Homo sapiens: one gene and its partner. The protein of the gene in region 2 interacts with the protein of the main gene of each other region in a biochemical or structural test. Each region holds a gene or a part of one and is shown on either strand. Other genes may lie near its edges.

Evidence for each region. The genes of interacting proteins can lie anywhere in the genome.
Region 1: the proteins of SYTL1 (region 2) and NCF2 form a complex in vitro, tested with the Homo sapiens proteins (one study listed by BioGRID).

Annotation. Positions count from the first base shown.
Region 1 is NC_000001.11:183,559,460-183,566,484, forward strand, and holds part of NCF2 (neutrophil cytosol factor 2), read right to left. Parts: intron 6,321-7,025; coding exon 6,245-6,320; intron 4,572-6,244; coding exon 4,546-4,571; intron 4,127-4,545; coding exon 3,975-4,126; intron 3,848-3,974; coding exon 3,736-3,847; intron 815-3,735; coding exon 637-814; intron 1-636. UniProt on the Homo sapiens protein: Subunit of the phagocyte NADPH oxidase complex that mediates the transfer of electrons from cytosolic NADPH to O2 to produce the superoxide anion (O2(-)).
Region 2 is NC_000001.11:27,345,009-27,352,033, reverse strand, and holds part of SYTL1 (synaptotagmin-like protein 1), read right to left. Parts: intron 6,738-7,025; coding exon of another isoform or gene 6,700-6,737; coding exon 6,509-6,699; intron 4,614-6,508; coding exon 4,465-4,613; intron 4,230-4,464; exon of another isoform or gene 4,227-4,229; coding exon 4,154-4,226; intron 4,068-4,153; coding exon 4,022-4,067; intron 2,955-4,021; coding exon 2,882-2,954; intron 2,637-2,881; coding exon 2,536-2,636; intron 2,383-2,535; coding exon 2,269-2,382; intron 2,063-2,268; coding exon 1,902-2,062; intron 1,646-1,901; coding exon 1,549-1,645; intron 1,241-1,548; coding exon 1,082-1,240; intron 777-1,081; coding exon 698-776; intron 579-697; coding exon 479-578; intron 1-478.

The DNA.
Region 1 (7,025 bases), about 160 Mb from region 2:
AGGTCATACAGCTTGATGCAAAGGCAAAGTGATTCCAGCCCAATTTGTTACCTCTGGGAATGAGAATCCATGGTTTCCAAAGCATACTCCTCTTTAATAATCAAGATGTTTATCGCCGGCCAGGTGCGGTGGCTCATGCCTGTAATCTCAGTACTTTAGGAGGCCGAGGCAGTTGGATCACTTGAGGCCAGGAGTTTGAGACCAGCCTGGTCAACATGGCAAAACCCCATCTCTACTAAATACACAAAAATTAGCTAGGCATGGTGGTGGGCGCCTGTAATCCTAGCTACTCAGGAGGCTGAGGCAGGAGAATTGCTTGAACCCAGGAGGGGGAGGTTGCAGTGAGCCGAGATTGTGCCACTGCACTCCAGCCTGGGCAACAGAGGGGGACTCTGTCTCAAAAACAAAAACAAAAACAAAACAACTCAGCTTCTTGTTGCTTTCCTGGCTACTAGAGCAATAGACAGGGAAAGTCTGAGTGCTCAACTTTGCTCCCTCCAGCTAGATGCTAGGAAGGGGGTTGAAAACACTGGCTAAAGTTTTGTTTGTAGATTATTGATATTTTCTTCTCTCTGCCCTTGACCTTGTTTCTGCTAACATGTAAATTTGTTTCTATAGTCTTGGAGTAGCACTTACCCTTTGATAACACCAGGATTATATCCCCTTCCTGAAACTCCAGGTCCTCTGGTTGGGTAGCCTCATAACTGAAGAGTGCCTCCACTTGGCTGCCTTTCTTAAGCTGAGGTTCTGTTGTCTGGTTATTAGCATCAGCTTTTTCACTTTCCTTGGGTTCATCTGGAAAGCCTTGGTCACCCTGAAATAATAAAGGGCCTGTTAATTTTCCCAATTTCCTGCCAAGTGAACACTGAACATCACTAAAGGAAACAGCGAAATGTCAAAGTAGAACCTGGGATATAAACTCATAAAGTTTGTGATCAGTGCCTTGTGTAGAGCTTATATGCTCTTTATGAATACTGGATGGTTGGGTAAATCAGTCCCCAACCTTTTTGGCACGAGGGACCAGTTTCATGGAAGACAGTTTTTAGATGAATGGTGGTGGGTGGTGGGTTGGGGGGTGGTTTCAGGATAAAATTGTTCCACCTCAGATCGTCAGGCATTAGATTCTCATAAAGAGCATGCGACCTAGATCCCTTGCATGCACAGTTCACAATAGGGTTCACACTCCTATGAGAATCTAATGCTGCTGCTGATCTGACAGGAGGCAGAGCTCAGGCCAGTATACCTGCAGCTCACCTGCTGTGCAGCCCTGTGCTGGCCCGTGGCCTGGAGGTTGGGGACCCCTGGGATAAATGAAACCAAAAGGTCTGCAAAATCATATACAGTCTTAAAATATCTTACTGAAACCTTACAATAATCTTGAGACAGGTAGAATGGGCATTATTATTTCTTTACAGATGGGGACAGAGCCCTAAGTCAAAACTGGCTTTCTTAGCATCAACTCTAACAGCAACACTAGGGACCTTGTTAGAAATGCAGACTTTCAACTCCATCCCAAAACTACTAAATCAGAAACTCCCTGAAGGTGAATCCTGCAATCTGTATTTTAAGTCCTCTAGGGAATTCTGATACTTGCTAAAGTTCAAAAACCACTGCACAATGCCATACTTGTTTTATCTGTAACAACATTTCTTATACATCTTAGACTTATGATCTTAGACTTCTTCCACATTATTGTCACTTTTGCTTCACAAATGAAGGAGAAGGATGCGGTTTCTACAGATGTGAATCATAGAATTTAACAAATCAACATTAGAAATGCTGCTAGGCTTGTATGTACCGAGCATTATAAGTTCTAGCTTCTTAATGTTGTTTGTTGAACGTTGGTATATTTTTATTGAGAGGCAATACAATGAGGTGGAAATGGCCCTAGAGAGTCCACAGAGAAAGGTTTGTATCCCACCTCCACTGCTTACCAGCTCTGTGTCCCTAAGCAAGCAGTGTAACTTCTCAGAACCTCAGTTACCTCACCTGAAATTGAGGCTAGAAGAATTCAATGAGATGACATACAATAATAGTAGTTGACATTTATTGAACACTTACTCTGTGGCAGTACTCTTCTAAATATGTATAAATATTTAGACTTGGTTAATGGTAAGTGTTCCTGCATAGAGTAGATGCTTAATAAATGTTAGTTCATTTTATTTTTCTTTCTTTTCTTTTCTTTTTTTTTTGTATTTTTAGTACAGATGGGGTTTCACCATGTTGGCCAGGCTGGTCTTAAACTCCTGACCTCAGGTGATCTGGCCCATCTCGGCCTCCCAAAGTGCTAGGATTTCAGGCATAAACCATACCAGGCCTCTTTTTTTTTTTTTTTTTTTTTTTTTTTTTTTTTTTTTTGAGGCAGAATCTCTCTGTCACCCAGACTGGAGTGCAGTGGTATGATATCAGCTCACTGTAACCTCCGCCTCCTGGGTTCAAGCAATTCTGCCTCAGCCTCCCAAGTAGCTGGGACTACAGGTGCACACCACCACACCCAGCTAATTTTTGTATTTTCAGTAGAGATGGGGTTTCACCATGTTGCCTCAGCCTCCCAAAGTGTTGGAATTACAGGCATGAGCCACTGCGCCTGGTTTTCTTTCTCCTAGTAAGTGAAAGCCTGCTTTGTTGCCTCCAAAAGTAATGGATAGTGATAAAGAACATTCAACAGTGACTCCTGAGCCTGGATTAAATTGCAAAAGATTGTGGGGAGTTGTAAGAGGGTTGGCTATGTGCAGCCACCAAATAGATTGAAGCTGCTGTCAAAGGAAAAAATTTTAATTAAAAAAAAGTTTAAGTGAAGTAGTTCACATTTAGAGCAGAACTCCTTCTAGGAAGAATCTTTTAAAAAAGATGCTGAAGGGGTTAGTCCAAAGACAGACAGCTGGAAAACCTAGAGTGACTTTTCAGACTTCCAAGAGACCCCTTACACTCACACTCACTCTTACCCCCAGGATCCTGGGGCCTTTTGTCTCAGCCAGAGACACCAGGGAGTCTCATCCCCAGTGGCTGTATTTCCTGAAGGCAATTTTCTGAACGGGGAAGATACCTTAAACAGCTTTATACACTGCCCTTTTCTAGGCTCATTCTCTTTCACTCTTCTTCTCCCAGCTCATGTCTGTAATCCCAGCACTTTGGGAGGCCGAGGCAGGTGGATCACAAGGTCAGGAGTTCAAAACCAGCCTGGCCAAGATGGTGAAACCCCGTCTCTACTAAAAATACAAAAATTAGCTGGGTGCAGTGGCAGGTGCCTGTAATCCCAGCTACTCAGGAGGCTGAGGCAGGAGAATTTCTTGAACCTGGGCGGCAGAGGTTTCAGTGAGCCAAGATCACACCCAGCTTGGGCGACAGAGTGAGACTCCATCTCAAAAAAAAAAAAAAAAGGTGAAGAATGGCTATGAGCTGAGCCTTAAGCTATGATATGACTTCATTCCAACCTTGCTTGACAGTAATGGATGGGATGTTTGACACAGTCAGGCAGGGAGCTGATGGAGGGGCAGGAGGCTTTCTGTGAGCTCCTGCCCTGCTGGGCCTGCTGTTCTCTTGTGGGAAACTCTCTCCCTGCTGCAAATGGGGTGAGGATGCAGGTAAAAGGGAGGCAGAGCTGTGACTTATTACACACCATATCCCCAACACCACATATAGTGCCTAGTACACAGAAGGTGCTTGATAAATTTCAAATTGTTGAGGAAGTGGCTCAGTGGAAATGTAACTTTAGATGCCCCTCATTGCACTCACCACTGTGTTCTCACACCACAGAGTCAGGCAGTAGTTTTTCACCTGGCCCCAGGCATCCTTCATGCTGTCTTCTGAAAGGGGCACCAGCTCATTGCTGTCCCGAGGCCGATAGCTGGGTGGGGATAATGAGTAAGAATCCAGTCAAAGAACATCATCACAAAAACCATCCTCCTCTTCCCTCCTCCAGGCCAGCACAAGGTTCCCACTGTACCCCTCACAGCTGCCTGCATGGAGCTCACCTCAGCTTAGTGTGTTCCAGCCGGAGCTCCAGTTTCTTAGACACCATGTCCCGGACCTGGCTGTAGGGGAGCCCGGGCTGAGTCTTCATGACTACCGTGTACTTGTAGTGCACCTTGAGTGTGTAGGGCATGGGAACACTGAGCTTCACTTCCTGAGTGGGGAGGAAACAAAGGGAACTCCTGAGTGTCTGAGGCTTTCTCTCAACATCCTGGATCACCGCAGTTTCGTGATTTGGCACAGGGGGTACCCAATACAGCAGGGGAGAGGCCAGTAAGTAACTGGTTTCACAGTAGCCTAAAAGGCCTTCAGAGGTCCTTTAGCCCAACCCTTGCTTGGACAGGAATTCCTACTGAGTAAGATCTGGCCCACTAGCTTGGGTAGTAGGAAGTGTGTGCATGATAGTGGAGGAGGCTATTAAGAAGGTCCCTAGCTCATGGACTCTGTAAGGTAGCAACTGGTTCGACCCTCCCTTTGGGGCTCTTCCTATAATCCAGACAGACATGTCTGTGGTTGATAGCCCAAGCTATCCCATCTTCTACCACTTGAAACAGTATGAGGGAAAAATGTTACCTTAGGCTCTTCTTTTTGTTTCTGGCCTGAATGGAAAAAGTAGGGAGTAAAACAAAAGAAGATGGTGAATGAACATCCTTGGCCAGCCCCTGCCACACACAGATGAAACCTCTTCAAATAGGGCCCCCAACCTCTTACCCTTTAATTTGTGGGGCAATTATTAACCTTAGTAAACTGTGGGGAAAATCTCGCCCTGGGGAAGCATGAAGGTCATGAACACATGAACAAACTCAGTCTCTGCTTCTAGGGAGCCTATAGGTAATTACCAAAGGACCAGCATATCCTCACCAACCCACAAGGTTAGCAGGGATCCCAAAGGTCAATTAAGCCCACGGGATCCAAAGCAATGAAAATCGGAGTGCAAGGTGAGCCAGAGGCCACAGGAAGAAGTATTAGAACCACTGATCCTCACCTTATTCTTTATTTTTGTGTATGTTTCCTAAAGTTTATTAATTTAATCTAATCTATTAATCAAGCAATCTAATATTAATCTAATTTATGTAAGAGTAGCATGCATAAAGATATTTACTATAGGGGGTACATGATCAGAGAAGGCCACTGATCTCAAACCTAGCTGATCATTAGAATCACATGGGAAGTTTTTTTCTAAAATACAAATTCCCGAGCCCCATTCCAGTCCTAAAATATCAGAGCCAGTAGCCTAGGACTCTGTATTCACAAAATCATCCTAGGTTTATATGTGATCCTTGATGAGCCTCTAGACAAAAGATAACAACAAAAAACCTGTCAAGGACATTGAGCAGGAGCAACGGGAGAAATTTGAATATGGAATATACATTATATAATACTATCATATGAATGTTTAGTGTCCTAGATACCATGATTCTATTGTGATTATGCAGGAGACTGCGTTTTTGCAGCTGTGTAGGGTGAAGTGTCACGAGTCTGTAACTTTTCAACTGGCTCGGGGGAGAAAAATAGAATGGAGCAGGGCGAGTTCATGGTGCAAAATGTTAACAATTGGTGAGTTTAAGTGAAAGATATTCTGATGTTTATTGTATTCTACTGTCAGCTTTTCTGTAGGTTGGACATTTTTCAAAATAAAAATGGGGGAAGGGACATCCCGAGTGATTCTGATGATCAGGCGCGTGTGGCAATCATTGATCTAGAATCTGGCCAACCACTCACTCTGCGTCTCTACCAAGCGCTTATCCAGAATCTGCTTCAAGTGCACTTCCCAAGACAGCCCTCTCCACACTAGGAAACAGCCTTTCAGAGAGAACATTTCCATTTCACATCTGCCCATTGGTTCTTTGTTCATCCTCAGGGCTCCACAGAGCAATTTCTTTTCCAGATACAGTGCCTCAGACATTTGAAAACAGCCACTCCATGCCCCTCAGAGATAAGCAGGTATAGTTACTTCAACTTTTCTTCCTGAGACATCGTTTCCCTACCTAATGATCAAGGGGTTTGGTGACTACGTGAGTCACTCAGGAACCAGCTGCATTCACCCAAGCCCCGTGAGTGTTCTGCAGAAGGCAGGGAGAGAGGGCACTGATTTCATGTTTGGGGTGGGTGGTGCAGGAAAGGGGGATTCTGGGGCTGCGTGGTCATTAGCTGAGTGACATGTTGGGAGAAGAAGAAACCAGAATTTCCTGGAAGGCAGGGAGAGGAACTCAGGAAGCAGCCTGGCATGCTGCTGCACCCAGACCTAGGCTGTGGCTCCAGGACCACTCACCTGGTGACAGCTGGGGTCTTCCAGGGGCTTTGGAACTAGGAGGAGCTGGGATGTCGGACTGCGGAGAGCTTTCCTCCTGAAGGCAACAGGGAGCGACGGTCAGAACCTTCATTCAAAGTTCCCAGGCAGGGGTGGATGTGGGGAAACACCCCTACAGAGACCCCATGTAAAGGAGCCACATGCAGATAACGTCCTAAAAGTTGGAATGGTAGTGACATTTGGGGAAGACGAAGGAAATGTTGGCCAAAAGAGGAGGTGGAGTTGGCCTGATGAAAATGAAAATCACAGTAGAAAGAAGAATCCTAACCCGCTAAAACGCCCTTGCCGCTTTAGCAACTCTTTCAGCCATATTGGAAATCCACTGGCCGTGGGGCAGGACTGAGCTCTTGTCTCCACTGCAGAGGGCATTGAGAAAGGAAAAATTCCACTTCTCATTTGCAAGGCATTTGAAGCTTTTCAAAGCATTTGGATATGGTGACTGACCAGGGAGGGCTGAGCTCATATACAACTGGTTGCACAGTCTAGAGACAGACAGTCTCCACTGCCATTGAGTCACTTACAGGGATGCTCAGATCTGACAAAGACAGCTCTCTAGGCCTGGCAGAAGGACAGACTTTTGAAGTGTGAGGGAGGGAGTAGCAGCAGTTTAGAAGCAGTGGCTGGCAAGGCCCACTCTGATTCAAAGCTCTAAGGCAGATCTCATTTTATTATTTTTATTTGTATAGAGGTGGCATCTCTCTATTTTGCCCAGGCTGGTCTCGAACTCCTGAGTTCAAGTGAT
Region 2 (7,025 bases):
GGAACCCCCTCTGCAAAATACAGTGTTGCTCAGAAGTACAGTACCTCTGTACTGCAGCCTCTGGCTGCATCAGAGTGGACACCCAGAAGTGACCCGCCCACCTCCATTTCACTCTCTAACAGTGGGGGCAGCACCTGGAGGCACCCCTAGAAGTCCCCTAGAAGCTTACACTGAACTATAAGTTCCCAGCCAAGCCCCACAGCCTGGCCTCCCAGGTTCTCTATGGAAGGACCCTTGCAGCCCTCAGCCTCAGCTTTTCAACAAGTCCTATAGGCGCCAGTCACGCTGAAATGCAGCTCCTCAAAGGTGTCCTCAACTTCCCTGACTCCAGGCCTTTGCTCAAACCGTCCCCTTCACCCCTGCTCAGTGGTGAAAGCCCAGGCTGCGTGATCAAAGGTTGATTAGTAAGGGTTTGTGGAGGTTGGGCACTCCACTGCAGGCAAAAGAATGGGAAGCCCGGAGGGCCAGCACTCCTCACCATTGTACGTAAGTGTCCAGGGATCCTGCCCGCAGCGGCAGGAGGTCCCGAGCCTCCTTCACCCAGAAGTGCAGCTCCCCGCTCGGGGGCAGTCCTGCGCCTGCGGAGAGGCTCGGCTCAGGCCCGCACACGGATGGAGTCCACCGCCCCCAAACCCGGGGACTGGAGTCTCCCGCTTTTCAGGGCGTGTCCAGCTTGGCCTCTCCGGCTGTCACTCACCCTCGGAGCCGGCGGGGACGTACTTGAGGGACAGGGCGAGTAACCCGCGGCTCGGAAGGTCGTCGGGAGAGGGTGGGACCTGCGAGAGGCGGGCTTATCGTGGAGCAGGGGCTAATGGAAAGGGGCCTCAGGAGGGTGGGGTCTGCAGACCCGGATGGGGTGCGGCTAGAAGAGACGGCGGGGCCTGCAGGGGCAGAACCTAGGGGTCCTAGCGCCCTCGGGGAAGGGGCCGTGGCCGGCCGGGCTTCGCCTGGGGCCATGAGGTTAAGAGGTTGAGGGGAGGTTCTGTCGAAGGCGGGGTGTGAGGGGGCTGCGGGAGAGCCTGGTGGGGTAAATGCAGGAGACCCGGGCCGCAGGTCTCCCCACGCGGCCTGGCTGCCTCACCCGGGGCTGCAGGGGGAGCCAGGTGGGCTCAGAGCCCCAGTCCCACGTGTCCAGGGGCACTTCAACTTCGCCCAGAAAGATGTTGCGACCCAGGCTTTCGCGGTGCCACACAGACAGGCTCAGCACGCGGCCCTGAAGCTCGGCCTGCGGGACGGAGTACTGAGGACAGGAGGTGAGCTTTAGTGGAGCACTGCTGGTGGCCCGCGTAGATGCTGCGCGAGTTGGCTGAGGCAGGTCCTACCGCGTTCCTACCATGATGGAATTCTGGGGAGCCCCTAAGGGCATTAATGGGGACCTGCACTATCACCACGCCCACCACGAGGCTGACAACACTGGATAACGAGTTAATGGGCCCCCTCCGCCGATCCTCCGGGCAATGACGTTACTGGCTGCCCTTGCCACCTAGCCCCGCAGGAAGGGGGCGTCCAGTTCATTAACGGGGAACCGCATCGTGGTCACAGCCTCACCCGGAGAGTCTCGTTGAAAACCGGATTCAGATTCCGTTTCTTCACCGCCGTCTTGCGCTTGCTCTGCTTATCCGGGAGGAGGTAGCTTTTGACGTAGCTGGGGAGGTGAGAACCCGAGGTGAGGAGGGGCCCTCCCAGAGCCTTCTCCCCTGCCTGTGGGCTCCCCCAGCCACCATCCCGAACACGTGCCAGGCCTCGTGCTAAGCGCTTTACAGGGATTGTCTCGCTTAATCGCACGCCTCCCAATAACGCTGTTGTTCCCATTTTGAAGATGAGGACGAGGAGGCCGAGACCCTGTGAATGGTGGGCTGGGCTGTGACAGCCGCGCCCCGCTTGGCCGGCGGGGCACTCACGGGTCCGAGCGGCGGCGCCGGGCGGCGGCCAGGCCCTGGCACTGGATCACGTGCACGCGCAGCTCGGCGGCGCCCGGCTCGTAGTGCAGCGCGAAGTGCACGGAGCCGCGGACCTGCACCGCCTCCGCGTCGCCTGACAGGCTCATCTGGCTGCCGCTCAGCTGCGGACGGGAGTGGGTGGGAGTCAGGGCCGCTCGCAGGGCTCACGTCGGGGCCGCGGGCAGCGCGGAGGCTTCAGACCCGGGTCATAGGTGGCAGGCTGGGGGGCTGCAGCGGTGGGTCCCGCGGCGAGGGAGGGGCAGGCAGGGGCTACGCATCGGAACGGGTCCACCCCCCGGCCGCCCGGGTCCCCTCCCTCCCGCCTCACCGTGGAGGAGTTAAGGCTGGACACCGAGGAGCTGCTGCTGAGCATGCGGTCGAGAGAGGGGTCGGGCCCCGGGGCCTCCTCCCCATTCTCCAGGATCTGGGACGCGGCCTTGGTCTGCAGAGGGGGCAAGTGACGGGGCGCCCCTTCTTTCCCCACCCCTGCCCCGAGCGCCCTGGGTCGCGGGCGGCTCGCAGCCCTGGGCAGGAGCGCTCCCCGCCCGGAGTCCGCTCCGGATGTTGAGAGCAGCCACGGGCCACTCCCGCCTACCTGGGCTTGCTGGGGCCGCGGCTCCTGCTCTCCCCCCGACGCGGGCTCCAGCTCCGGGTCAGCCTCCTCGGCACAGACCTGTTGGTCTCCTTGGCCAGGATCTGGGGTGGGGCACGAGATGCTAAGCGAGCCCTCTCCTGCCCTCCCCTAAGCAAATTTGTAGGAACTGGTTTACAACCCCAGCGAGCTGCAGATTCAGGCCCCGGTGCTGCCCTGGGATCGTCCCCACCTCCGACGCGGGGTGGGAGTGGGGGTGACGAGGGTGAACACAGGTGGTTGGGGCCCCTTAGAGCTGCCTCTGACCCGCGAAACCTCTCCGTGCTCCCCAACAGGCGCTCCCACTCACCTTCCTGGGCCTGGGACGCCTCCTCAGGATCTGAAGCCTTTAGGGGGACAGAAGGCGATGGGAAATCAGGTCCCTGAAGGAAGAAAGGGGTAGAGGTCACAGTACGGGGGCTGGTGAGGAAGAGGTCAAAGGTCATATTGGGGTCAGAGGTCATAGGGCTCCAGCCAGCTACCCCAGTTTCAGGTTTAGGGCAGCCCTCCGGGCAGGGCTGGCAGCCAGCTGCAGGAGCGGTGAGACCAGTGCTTCACAGCCCACCCCGCAGGGCTTGTGCCGCCTGACTCCCTACTCCCATTGGTGGGGTCATTCGTACCTGAGTCCTCCACCTCTGCCAGGCCAGGCCAGTCCCATTCCTTTCTCACTCCTTTTTTTATTTTTATTTTTTATATTGACCCATTGGTAGACAACCTTTTTTCTTTTTTTAAATTTATTCTTATTATTTTTAATTGAGACAGAGTTTCACTCTTGTTGCCCAGGCTAGAGTGCAATGGTGTGATCTTGGCTCACTGCAACCTCCGCCTCCTGGGTTCAAGCGATTCTCCTGCCTCAGCCTCCCAGTAGCTGAGATTCCAGGTTATGCACCATCATGCCCAGCTAATTTTGTATTTTTAGTAGAGATGGGGTTTCTCCATGTTAGTCAGGCTGGTCTTGAGCTCCTGACCTCAGGTGATCTCGGCTTCCCAAAGTGCTGGGATTATAGGCGTGAGCTGCCACGACCGGCCTTTTTTTTTTATTTATTTTTTATAGACATGGGGGGCATTTTGCTATGTTGCCCAGGCTGGTCTTGAACTCCTCGGCTCAAGCGATCCTCCCACATCAGCCTCCCAAAATGCTGGGATTACAGGCATGAGCCACCGTGCCTGGCCCCACTTCACCCCTTAATAGCCAGATTCAGAAGTTCCCTTAGAGGCTGGGTCCATATACCACTCACTGTTCACCACCGTTCACCACTGTTTACCACCATTCACCACCGTTCCCCACCGTTCACCACTGTTCCACCCAGGAGGTGATGAGGTGCAGACACAGGAAGGAACATTTCCAGGGTCTCCCCATTCCCAGGCTGGGGCTCTTTCCCCCCTGCCCCCTGCACATTCCACCTCCCCTCCAGGGACACTGTACTCACATGTTGGCTCATTCACTTACCTCAGTCTCCCTGAGCCTCTCCTGAGGGGCCTCATCAATGGTGAGCCTAGGAGTAGGGAGAGGACGCTCTCAGAGGGAGGGACCCTGGTGACTGGTGGGCACCATCTCCCCCTTCCTGAGACTCCTCCTCACCTGGGCTCTGGCCCCTCTTCCTTCTCTTTCACAGCAGCCTCAGCCTCCCTGTCGTGGCCTGGAGCCTGGTCTCCTGGGCGCAGGTGAGAAGTTCTGTGAGCCCCCATGCTCAGGAAGCCTGGCTGTGACTCGGGAGAGGCCCTGGGAGATACCCACCCACCCCATGCCCACGGAGGGGCATTGCCCACTGAAAGACACACAGTACTGGGGGCAGCCAGGACTGGAGCCCTAGTGGTCCTCTCTCCCTGTCCACATACAGCCAGCGCCCTGGACGGCACATGGCTTGCCCTGCCCCGAGGATCTCCTCTCACCCCTGGTGCTCTTCTTCCTGCGCATAGACGCTCGGACAAGGTCAGAGCCGAAGTGGGCATTGTGGTGCCGCTGGGAGCGTGCTTCCTGGAACCAGTCCCCTGTCAGGATCTTCAGCTGCCCAGGGTCTGCCACTGAGGCCCGGAGCTTGCTGGAGGAAGGGGGAGGGTGTGGCTGTCATGACTCACCCAAGCAACATTCCCGCCACCTACATTGTTAACAGGCTTGGGACCAGGGGCCAGGGACCCAACAGCAAATCAGACTTGATCTGTGCTGTGGAGGAGCTCGGGCTGCTGGGGAGACCAAGTCCAGAAGAGACAAGTACACTGTAGTGAGGTGGATGATGTGATAGAAGTAAGAAGAGCCAGCTCTGCCTGTGAGAATCCAGGAGGGCTTCCCAGAGGAGGTGACATTTGAATTGCCTTTATTTATTTATTTACTTAATTATTTTGAGATGGAGTCTCCCTCTATGCCCAGGCTGGAGTGCTGTGGCGCAATCTCAGCTCACTGCAACCTTCACCTTCCAGGCTCAAGTGATCCTCCCACCTCAGCCTCCTGAGTAGCTGGGACTACAGGCGTGTGCCACCATGCCCAGCTAATTTTTTATATATTTTTTTGTAGAGACGGGGCTTTTCCATGTTGCCCAGGCTGGTCTCTAACTCCTGGACTCAAGCAATCCACCTGCCTCAGCCTCCCACAATGTTGTAAGTCACTGTGCCCAGCCTTGAATTTCTTCTTAAAAGACAAATTGGAACTCTCCAGGTAGAGAAGGATAATAATTATTATACTTTTAATTTTATTATTTTTTTTTGAGACAGGGTCTTGCTCTGTTGCCCGGGCTGGAGTGCAGTGGCATGATCATGGCTCATTGCAGCCTGACCTCCTGGGTTCAAGCAATCCTCTCACCTCAGCTGCCTAAATAGCTGGGACTACAGGCGCACACCACCACGCCAGGCTAATTTTTTATATTTTGTAGGAATGGGGTCTCACTGTGTTGTCCAGGCTGGTCTTGAATTCCTGGGCTCAAGCAATCCTCCCGTCTCAGCCTCTCAAAGTGCTAGGATTACAGGCGTTGCCACTATCTCTGGCCAATTCCTCTTAAATCAGTGAAGTAGGACTCCTTAGCCCCATTTTACAGACGACGAGCATGGTGCTCAAGGAGGTCAGGTGAGTTGCCAAGGCTACGTAGCTAGGAAGTGTCTGTCCCCAAACATTGCTTGTAACGCCCATGCTCTTCTACAACTGTGCTCTTCCAGGAAGAAGTACCAGCATAGGCATAGAAGTGAAGAGTGGGTTCAGGGACTGGGGAGCACCTGAGTGGCTGGAGGGGTCACTTTGTGTCTGTGTGTCGGGTCGGAGTTATGGTGAAAGAGGAGATGGTGGGGGCTGGCAAGGACCGACCAGGGAGGCCCAGTGGACCATGCCTAGGAGCTTGCCCTTGATACTGGGGAGCCAGGGGAAGTTTTCAGCGGGGATATTAAGGACGGATCTGGCCAGGCACGGTGGCTCGCGTCTGTAATCCCAGCACTTTGGGAGGCTGAGGCGGGTGGATCATCTGAGATCAGAGGTTCAAGACCAGCTTGGCCAACATGGCGAAAACCCATCTCTACTAAAAATACAAAAATTAGCTGGGCATGGTGGCATGTGCCTATAATCCCAGCTATTTGGGAGGCTGTGGCAGGAGAATCGCTTGAACCCGGAGGGGTGGAGGTTGCAGTGAGCCAAGATTGTGCCACTTCACTCCAGCCTGGGCGAAAAAATGAAACTCTGTCTCAAGAAAAAAAAAAAAAAGCAGACAGATCTGGGGAGCACCAGCTGCAGGAGGTGGGCCCAAGAGGCAAGCCTGGAGGCAGGGAGGCTGGCGAGAAAGCTGGTGCAGTCACCCCTGGAGAAGTGATGAGCTGTGAGCTGGCCAAGGCCAGAGGAGACTGAAGGGCAAAACCAAGAACCACGCAGACATCTGACAGGCAGTGGTGTCGGTAGGGAGCAGGATGGGGGCCACTCAAGCCTCTTGGTGCTCCCCGGCCAGGGTCTGCCCTGCCTTACCTGACCCGCCCCTCCTCCAGCTGGCGCAGGCGGGCATCTCGTTGGAGGACGCCAGCAATGGCCTCCTGCTCCTCCTCTGTCAGGAAGCTGAGGTCCAACAGTCCTTCAGTCTCAGGCTTTGGCCCATGCGCCATGGGGAGGGAGGGCAGAGCCCAAAGCCCCTCTTGCGATGGGTGGCCCCTCTGGGGCATCAGCTGGGGCTGTGCCCCAGCTGGGCACACGGAGCTTCCTGGGGGCAGACCGAGGGTCAGGTCAAGCCCTGCACAAATGCTTGGCACATCCTAGAACCAACAGCCCTTTTCTCCCCAAACACTTGGCCGGGTATGGGTAGGGTGCCACCCCAGGATGGCTGAGCTCAAGGTGGGGTGAGAGACACTCATGCACACATGCATACACTAGCCCTTGAACACACTTGGAGACACAGTGGAAGAAGCAAGAGACACACATGCACACACCCTGAGGTAGGGCCACACAGGACTGCAGCGATGGAACACACAGACACATGTGCACACGCGGG